Regions from separate parts of the Homo sapiens genome. Here regions 1 and 2 are each linked to region 3. Evidence: fine-mapped expression QTL. A gene starts in region 3. Each other region holds a variant in brackets. All regions are shown on one strand. Distances are between the middles of the regions. Region 1 overlaps RAB20 (RAB20, member RAS oncogene family). Region 2 overlaps RAB20 (RAB20, member RAS oncogene family). Region 3 holds the start of RAB20 (RAB20, member RAS oncogene family).

The links.
Region 1: its variant is fine-mapped to the expression of RAB20 in monocytes after R848 (Quach 2016, PIP 0.91).
Region 2: its variant is fine-mapped to the expression of RAB20 in monocytes after LPS (Fairfax 2014, PIP 0.95). The same link has a PIP of 0.9 or more in monocytes and monocytes after interferon gamma.

What each region holds. Positions count from the first base shown.
Region 1 is chr13:110,530,301-110,532,966 of GRCh38, forward strand. All of the region lies in intron 1 of RAB20 (RAB20, member RAS oncogene family), which reads right to left. Among named protein-coding and RNA genes, the nearest start is that of COL4A2-AS1, 23 kb to the left of the region's middle. RefSeq lists an enhancer at 458-1,074. The variant C/G (reference allele first, on the strand shown) is at 1,609.
Region 2 is chr13:110,522,345-110,525,010 of GRCh38, forward strand. It overlaps RAB20 (RAB20, member RAS oncogene family), which reads right to left. Exons shown (of 2, transcript NM_017817.3): 2 at 722-1,853. The coding sequence ends at 1,321. Among named protein-coding and RNA genes, the nearest start is that of COL4A2-AS1, 15 kb to the left of the region's middle. RefSeq lists an enhancer at 2,284-2,423. The variant TC/T (reference allele first, on the strand shown) is at 1,162.
Region 3 is chr13:110,560,056-110,562,709 of GRCh38, forward strand. RAB20 (RAB20, member RAS oncogene family) reads right to left here and starts at 1,667. Exons shown (of 2, transcript NM_017817.3): 1 at 1,293-1,667. The coding sequence starts at 1,464. RefSeq lists silencers at 1,227-1,286, 1,266-1,455, 1,347-1,796.

The sequences.
Region 1 (2,666 bases), 30 kb before region 3:
GGCAGGTCCCACCCGCCCCACCTCTACGCAGACACAGGGCCCCGGGGAGGCAGGTCCCACCCGCCCCACCTCTACGCAGACACAGGGCCCCGGGGAGGCAGGTCCCACCCGCCCCACCTCTACGCAGACACAGGGCCCTAGGGAAGTAGGTCCCACCCGCCCCACCTCTACACAGACACAGGACCCTGGGGAAGTAGGTCCCACCCGCCCCACCTCTACACAGACACAGGACCCTGGGGAAGTAGGTCCCACCCGCCCCACCTCTACACAGACACAGGACCCTGGGGAAGTAGGTCCCACCCGCCCCACCTCTACAGACACAGGACCCTGGGGAAGTAGGTCCCACCCGCCCCACCTCTACACAGACACAGGACCCTGGGGAAGTAGGTCCCACCCGCCCCACCTCTACGCAGACACAGGGCCCTAGGGAAGTAGGTCCCACCCGCTCCACCTCTACACAGACACAGGACCCTGGGGAAGTAGGTCCCACCCACCCCACCTCTACACAGACACAGGGCCCTCAGGAGGCAGGTCCCACCAGGTTTGTTTCTCGAATTTACAGATCTAAAAACACAATTGTGTCTGTTCACCTAAAGAGCTAATTCCACTCACTTTATGAGGTTTAAGTTCTGTCTAAACAAGAGAAATGGAAGCCAGAACAGGACTTCGTAATTTATAGCAGGGAATGAGCTGTTAACTTCCACGATCCCGTCCTGTATCAAGGATAGGAAGCGCTGCATTAGCTATGGGAAGAAGCATGGCCAGCACAGTGTGAGTCCTCAGGGTTTATTATGCTCGTGCAGGCTTCCCTTTCCCATGTTTTACAGGAGGAGGAACTGAGGCACAGATGGAGAAGGAGGTGGGCAACAGACACAGGAGCGGTGGAGCCCTGAGAAGCACGCTGGCAACAGGCACCCCAGGGAGTCTGGTCTAACCACCCCCAGAGGCAGAGGAAGGGGCCTAGGGCCCCTTTGAGGTGGGCTGCTGGGCAGGAGAAAAGCCTGCCTCCACCCTGTGATCCCACAGAGCACAGGCATTTGCAGAATGCAGCCACCTTCCCAGGAGCTCCAAATTTTACGCAGAGAACTATCCTGGAAGTGCCGGCTAATTCGCTGGGCAGGGACTGCAGAGCGTTCTGGTAAACAGCCCCCACTCTAGAGACAGACTACATTCAAATCCCCACCGTGTGACCTTGGGCAAGTCACTTAGACATGCGGTACCTCAGTTTCCCCGTCACTAAAATGTGGGTTACACCTGCCAAAGGGTGGCTGAGAAAGCAGAATCTGCACACAGGTGAACTGGCTGGAGCTGCACCCAGCACATTAGGCCCTGTAATAGAAGTGCTTGTTCCATAAATCGTGAGATTCCTCCCAAACCTAAGGATGGATGCCACCGTCCCAGGGCTGCCCATGTCCCGGGTCTCATCATCCCTCCATTTACACACCACCTCCTGGGGCCGACTGGGCGCTTTTGCAGTGGACCAATCTTCTACGTTTCTTATTCTCAGATGATGACCTTCTCCCTGGTCCTGGGGGTGCTCCGGATGTTGCCAGATCAGTGGAGCTGACATGGCCCAGGGTTCAGGCAGAAGGGGAAGGGAAGTCAGCA[C/G]CCACAGTAATCCTGATTCACTGTTGCGGAACCAAAAACTGCCCAAGTGCTTTCCATTTCACTCTTCAGCCTTCCCAAAGCCAAACACAGCCAGGCTTCTACCCCAAGTGTTGTGTCGTTTTCACTATTGGTTTAAATAAGAGTGGGTTGAGATAGCCATCAGAAGCCACGGACACCCTTGGCTCACATCTTAAGCATGGGGTGGGGAGACTTAAAAAATACTGATGCTCAGACCCTGACCCAGCTGCCAGGGCAAGAGTGGGGCTGGCATTTGTATCAGCTTTAAAAGCGCCCCAGGTGAATACCAGGTGCACCAGGAGTGAAAATCAGCAATTTACCCAGTGAAAGTGGGAAATAAAAGGGCAGCTATTGAAATGTAAGAATTAGAAAGCTTGGTATTTCAATTCATTGAAAAGTGAGCCCTACCAGGAAATGCAAACACTGAGACAACAGGAACTTTCATTATTTATTTATTTACTTTTTCTTGAGACAGAGTCTTGCTCTGTTGCCCAGGCTGGAGTGCAGTGATGCAATCTCAGCTCACTGCAAACTCCACGTCCAGGGTTCAAGCAATTCTCCTGCCTAAGCCTCCCTAGTAGCTGGGATTACAGGCACACACCACCAAGCCCAGCTAATTTTTGTACTATTAGTAGGGACAGGGTTTCACCATGTTGGCCAGGCTGGTCTCAAACTCCTGACCTCAAGTGATCCACCCACCTTGGACTCCCAAAATGCTGGGATTACAGGCGCGAGGCACCACGCCCAGCCTATTTAATTATTATTTTTTTGAGACAGAGTCTTGCTCTGTCACCCAGGCTGAAGTGCAGTGGTACGATCATGGCTCAATGCAGCCTCCATCTTCTGGGCTTAAGTGTTCCTCCCAACTCAGCCTCCCGAGTAGCTGGGACCACAGGTGCATACCACTACACCCAGCTAATTTCTTTTATGTTTGTGTAGAGATGGGGACTTACTATGCTACCCAGGCTGGTCTTGAACTCCTGGGTTCATGCTATATTCCCAACTTGGCCTCCCAAAGTGCTGGGGTCACAGGCATGAGC
Region 2 (2,666 bases), 38 kb before region 3:
AGTAGGGAGGATTGCTTGAGTTCAAGGGTTTGAGACCAGCCTGGGCAACATGGCAAAACCCCAACTCTACCAAAAAAAAAAAAATTATTGGGGCATGGTGGCACATGCCTGTAATCCCAGCATGTTGGGAGGCTGAGTCGGGAGGATTGCTTGAACCCGGAGGTACAGTCTGCAGTGAGCTAAGATCACGCCACTGCACTCCAACCTGGTGACAGAGCAAGACCCTATCACAAAAAAAAAAAAAAAAAAGAAAGAAAACAGCACTTATGAAACCCACTGCCCAGTGCCATCTGCCCCACATTGCCTCCCAACAAACAGCCCCGACCCCAGCCTGCTTTCGTTCAGTCACATTTCTGGGAAAACAAATCTGCTGTCTCCTGGCACCTCTGTCTGACATCTTCCAATAAAGCAGCCACCCCACGGCCAGCAGCAGCAGACCCGAAGGGGGTTTCTGACTCAGAGACCTGGGTGCTCAGATGCCCCAGACTTCAGCAGAACCAGAGCTTTAAGCTTTGCTACTATTATTGGAATTCAAGTCATCAAGAAAACTAGACAGATGGGCCAATCTAAATATTCTGCAATTGGTAAGGATTTCACAGAGCTTCCGCACAAAGAGAGACGTATCTCAAGTTCACAGCCATCTCCCCAGCGCCCCCCACCCTACCCCACAGAGAGTCCCTGGGACTGGGGGTGCAAATGAAGTCAGTTCAGTCTCAATACCTAAGTTGTTCCAAAAATCCTCTTTAATAATACATGTAGCCAACATTGCTGCAATCAGTATAAAAACAAAGTTATTCCTGATTTTGTATAAATGAACACGTCGAGAGTCAGGATTATAAAGCATCAAGATACAAGTACCAAGTGGGAGGACCAAAGACAACTCACAGTGAAGAGAAACGCTTGAGAACAAGAAATGTCAGAGTTGTAGGACGTGGTAACAACCCAGGGTGCTGAAACGGTCAGAGGTGCAGGTGCAGACGCAGGCTTCTGCCTCTGCAAGGGCAAGGGGGCCGTTGGTGGCTGGCTGCAAAGGACCAGTGCCAGGCAGCGGGGCAGAGAGCACCAGGGGTCTCGACTCTGCAGATTGGGCTTTGCAGAGGATTCCTGTTTCCCACCTCCCCACCCCTCTGACAGAGACTGAGGAGACCACACACGTTGACC[TC/T]CTCTTCATAGCCAGCCATCATTTCCACTCCAACATTCTGCTGCGGGTGTCATTCTGGAAAATAATTCCTTGCTGTTCCTTGCTCCTTTCAGATCACAGCTTGCCTGGTCAGACCCCTTCCCAACATGCACAGTCTGAGTCCAGGAGGCCCTCGAAAGTCAGGCACAACACCCAGATCTGGTCCTCTTGGGTGGCTTATGACTGGATATATCCACTGTGTGTGACGGCCTCTCAGCTCTCTGCTGTAAGATCATTGGCACCACCAGGTCAAAGAGGGTCTCAAACAGGAGGTCCACATTGTAGCCGGTCTTGGCGCTGGTCTCAAAGCACATTTGCTCAGCGGCCGGCACATCCTGCTCATCCAGCATCTTGTACTTGAGGATCTTTTTATAAAGGGCCACCGCATCCTCCAGCTGCACCTGCTTAGGTGCCCTTGGGGAGACACGGTCCCCAGCGTCCATATTGGGACTGCACTCTTCCTTCTCCTGGCCCGCCAAGGCCCCCTCCTCAGTGAGGTCCACTTTGTTCCCCACGATGGCAAAGAGGCAGTCTTTGCTGGCTGTGTCTGTCAGGCCCAGGAACCGGTCCTCCAGCTCCACCAGGCTCTGCCGGTGATTCACATCATAGGTGAGGATGATGGCGGCCGCCCCCCGGCAGTACATGGAGCCCAGGCCGTGGAACTGCTCCCGCCCTGGTGGGAAGAGAGGGACAGAAAGAGTGGTTATCTCTCATCTCAGAACATAGCCACCAGCCACACTGCAAGGGAACGTCCCACAGGGATGTTTATTTTTAGGGCAACACACACAGGATGAAATGCTTAAACATAGTTGATGGAGAATGTGCCACCCATGGGCACCATCCCCAAAGCAGGCAGCCCCTCGAGAAAACAAGCTGTTGGGTGCCCAGACTAGATGGGAAACAGAATCCAAGAATGTTCAGGAAGAACGGGCCTCAGGCATTCACACAGCCCTCCCTGCCTTCAAGCACCAACTCCAAAGGAGTCCTGGCCCCAGCCATGGCTGGAGATGGAAGGAATCAAGAACTGATGTCCAGAAAAAAGCAGCGACTGCCAAGGCCCTTGCTGAGATAGAAGCTGACTCGGGAATGCAGACTCCGGAAGCAAAGTGTGCCCATGTCCCTTCACCCTCCTCCTTTACACCCCCTGGGTGCTCCCAGCTGCCCTGTGCTGCCCTGCCCAGGAAGTGCTGCGGGGAGGGCTTCTGAGTTCATAACAGCAGTTGTAAACCACACCTGCCCTTATCTGCCCAGAATCACACAGCACCCTGCGGTGCTCACGATATTTTTAGGACACAGTGGACATCTCCCCTCCCACGCTGGAATCGGAATCCCTGAGGAGCCAGGCCCCAGCATTCGCACTTCTTGTGGGTGCCGCAGCCCCGCCTGCCCTCCAGGTTTAAAACAGACAGAGGTGCGGGCAATTGCAGGCAAGCCGGGAACCTGCTCCCAAAACATTTCCAGGTTGAGATCAAACCCTCGGGACACA
Region 3 (2,654 bases):
TTGACTTTGTACAGAAGCAAATTGGGTTCGTGAATTGGGTTCGATTTGACTTCTAGAGCGTGTGTTCCATCGTTACCAAATGCTCAGTGTGAGGGAGTCAGCTCAGTAAACCTCATCCTGCAGCCTGAGGCAGAAGACAGAGTTGGAGCAAAGATCAGGGAAATGCACCTCTTTACCTGGGGGACATTGTTTTCACAAGATGATTGCCAATAAATTAGTCACGATGTTAACTGGGATAATAATAAAAAAGCATCAAAGAAGGCAAAAGGGAGGGGGAGAACTGGAAGTACCTCTGTGAGCTTCGTTAATTCAGTTTTAAAGAGAGAATTCATTATCATCTTGTTTATTCAGCATACTGATACACCCAAGATGGCAATTTAAGAATTCTGGACGGGGCCTTTGGGTATATGACTTTTTAAGATGCTAACATAAAAGAAGTCAGAACTTTCAGAGTTTCAGGCTTCTAAAAACTCACACTCATTGAAAATGTGTCACACTATTTCCAGTTTCTTCATTCACTTACAATATCTTATTCTTTTGTAAGGAGAAGGAAATATATTCCATTGCAATGCTACAATCACCAGTGTTATTTTCCAAAGTTAAACAGAAAGCCTGAATTGAGATCCTCTAAGTTGTACTTTTGAAAAGTCACAAATACTACACAATAAAAATAACTCATTACCTATCTTAAAAATGCTTCCACCGGAAGTCACTCCAACCCAAACCCATATGACGTATCTGAGCCAAGATCAAGCAGAAGATTAACTGTAAAAGGCAGATATGCTCCGGGCTAAGAGGTCCGGAGGCTCCAGTTTTATTTCCTCTCTCCTGACTAAACCCAACAGGGGGGAACACTCTGTGCCTCATTTTACTTTTTCTTAGAAAGGGGCTAATAACACCAGCTCTGCTCACCCCTCAAGTGAATCTCAAAGGATATCATGTTCCTACGGGTACGTGAAAACTGAAAATACCTAACAAAGCAGCCACAGAGGAGCGTCTCTGGTTCCCAGGGCGGCAGAGCAGGAACGCGGGGCTCGGGAGCAAAGGCAGCTTAGGTACACAAATGACCAGCGGGTTCTCTGCAACTTGGGTTGTCCCTGAGGTCACTGAGTGGCTGAGAGGCAGCGCTCAGCCCAACCAGCAAGGGAGGACGAGTGGGAAACCCCGAGAAGGAGGCATTTGCTGTCCGAGGCCGGGACCCTGTGCGCGGCCGGGTGCCCTGCTGGAAGCCCCGCGCCCCCCGTCCCCGGCGGAGCCCCAGGGCGGTGTGGCTCATGCGGCGCCGGCCTCACCTGCGGTGTCCCAGATGGAGATGTTGTAGGAGCGCCACTGCTTCAGGTAGAAGGCGCCGCCCACCGTGCTGACCGTGTCCGGGAAGCGCCGCTCCATATACCGCTGCAGCAGCGACGTCTTCCCCACGTTCATGTCCCCCAGGAGCACGATCTTGCTGTCGGGCTTCCTCATCTTCCCGTAAGAACCCCCAGCGCCCCCGCGCCCTCTCCCCGAGGCTGGCCGGCTCGTGCGCCCTGGGCGCAGCTGGAGGAGCGGACCCCGGACTCGCCGGGACCCGGATTCTCGTGAACGCTCCGGGACCTTCGCCTCCGGACGCCCGGGAGCTCAAGAGAGGAAGCGCGTGTGCGCGCCCGGGAAGGAGCTGGGTGCAGAGCACGGAGCCCACGTCGGGGGCCCGGACCGCGGCGGCCTCGCCTCGCCCCGCCCCCGCCCCCGCCCCCGGGCCCTTTCACCGCCGCGGCCCCGCCCTATCCTCCTCCGCCCACCGCCCCCGTCCCGCCCCTGCTGGACCTCGCCGTTTCGCAAGCATCCGAGTTCTCCAGCCGAGGCTCGGGACTGCTGCAGGGTGGAAAATGAAAGTTCTGAGAGCACCTTCCGCCCCTCCGCTTCTGCACAGCCGGGGCTGCGGTGCGAGGAGCTTGGCCGCGGGGCCCGAACGAGGCGAAGGGGCCGGGGCCCTTGGGGAACCCCCTTCTCTCTTCCACTCTCCCTTAGGTAAAACCCGTGTTCCTCTCACGCTCGACCCAGCGCCTTTCCAGCTGCGGTCGATTTGCTTCTCCGCGTGTAAGTACAGCCACCCTCAAGGTCATTGAAAAAGTTTGCTTTAAATGAGCGTCTGCGGAACTCGTCCTGAGGCTCTCACTGTTACAGATTAGAGATGGGGGCGCTTTCTAGTGGAGGATTTTGCTTTTGCTCTTCTACTTTTGCAAGAAGCTTTTTGTCCTGAAAAGTGGACAGTCATCTCCATTTATAGCTTGGAATGAAAATTTGACTATGGAAGTTGCAGTCGCTACTTGAGAAATATTTCCTCCTTCTTTTTTTTTTTTTTTTTTTATTTTTGACACGGAGTTTTGCTGTTGTTGCCCAAGCTGGAGAGCAGTGCGCGATCTCGGCTCACTGCAACCTCCGCCTTCCGGTTTCAAGCGATTCTCCTGCCTCAGCCTCCCGAGTAGGCGGGATTACAGGTATGTGCCACCATGCCCGGCTAATTTTTGTATTTTTAGTAGACACGGGGTTTCACCATGTTGGCCAGGCTGGTCTCGAACTCCTGACCTCGTGATCCACCCGCTTCGGCCTCCCAGGTCCTCCTTCCGTTTTAAAGGATAAACCTTGAAATGCTTTTAAAATATGCAGCGTGTAGA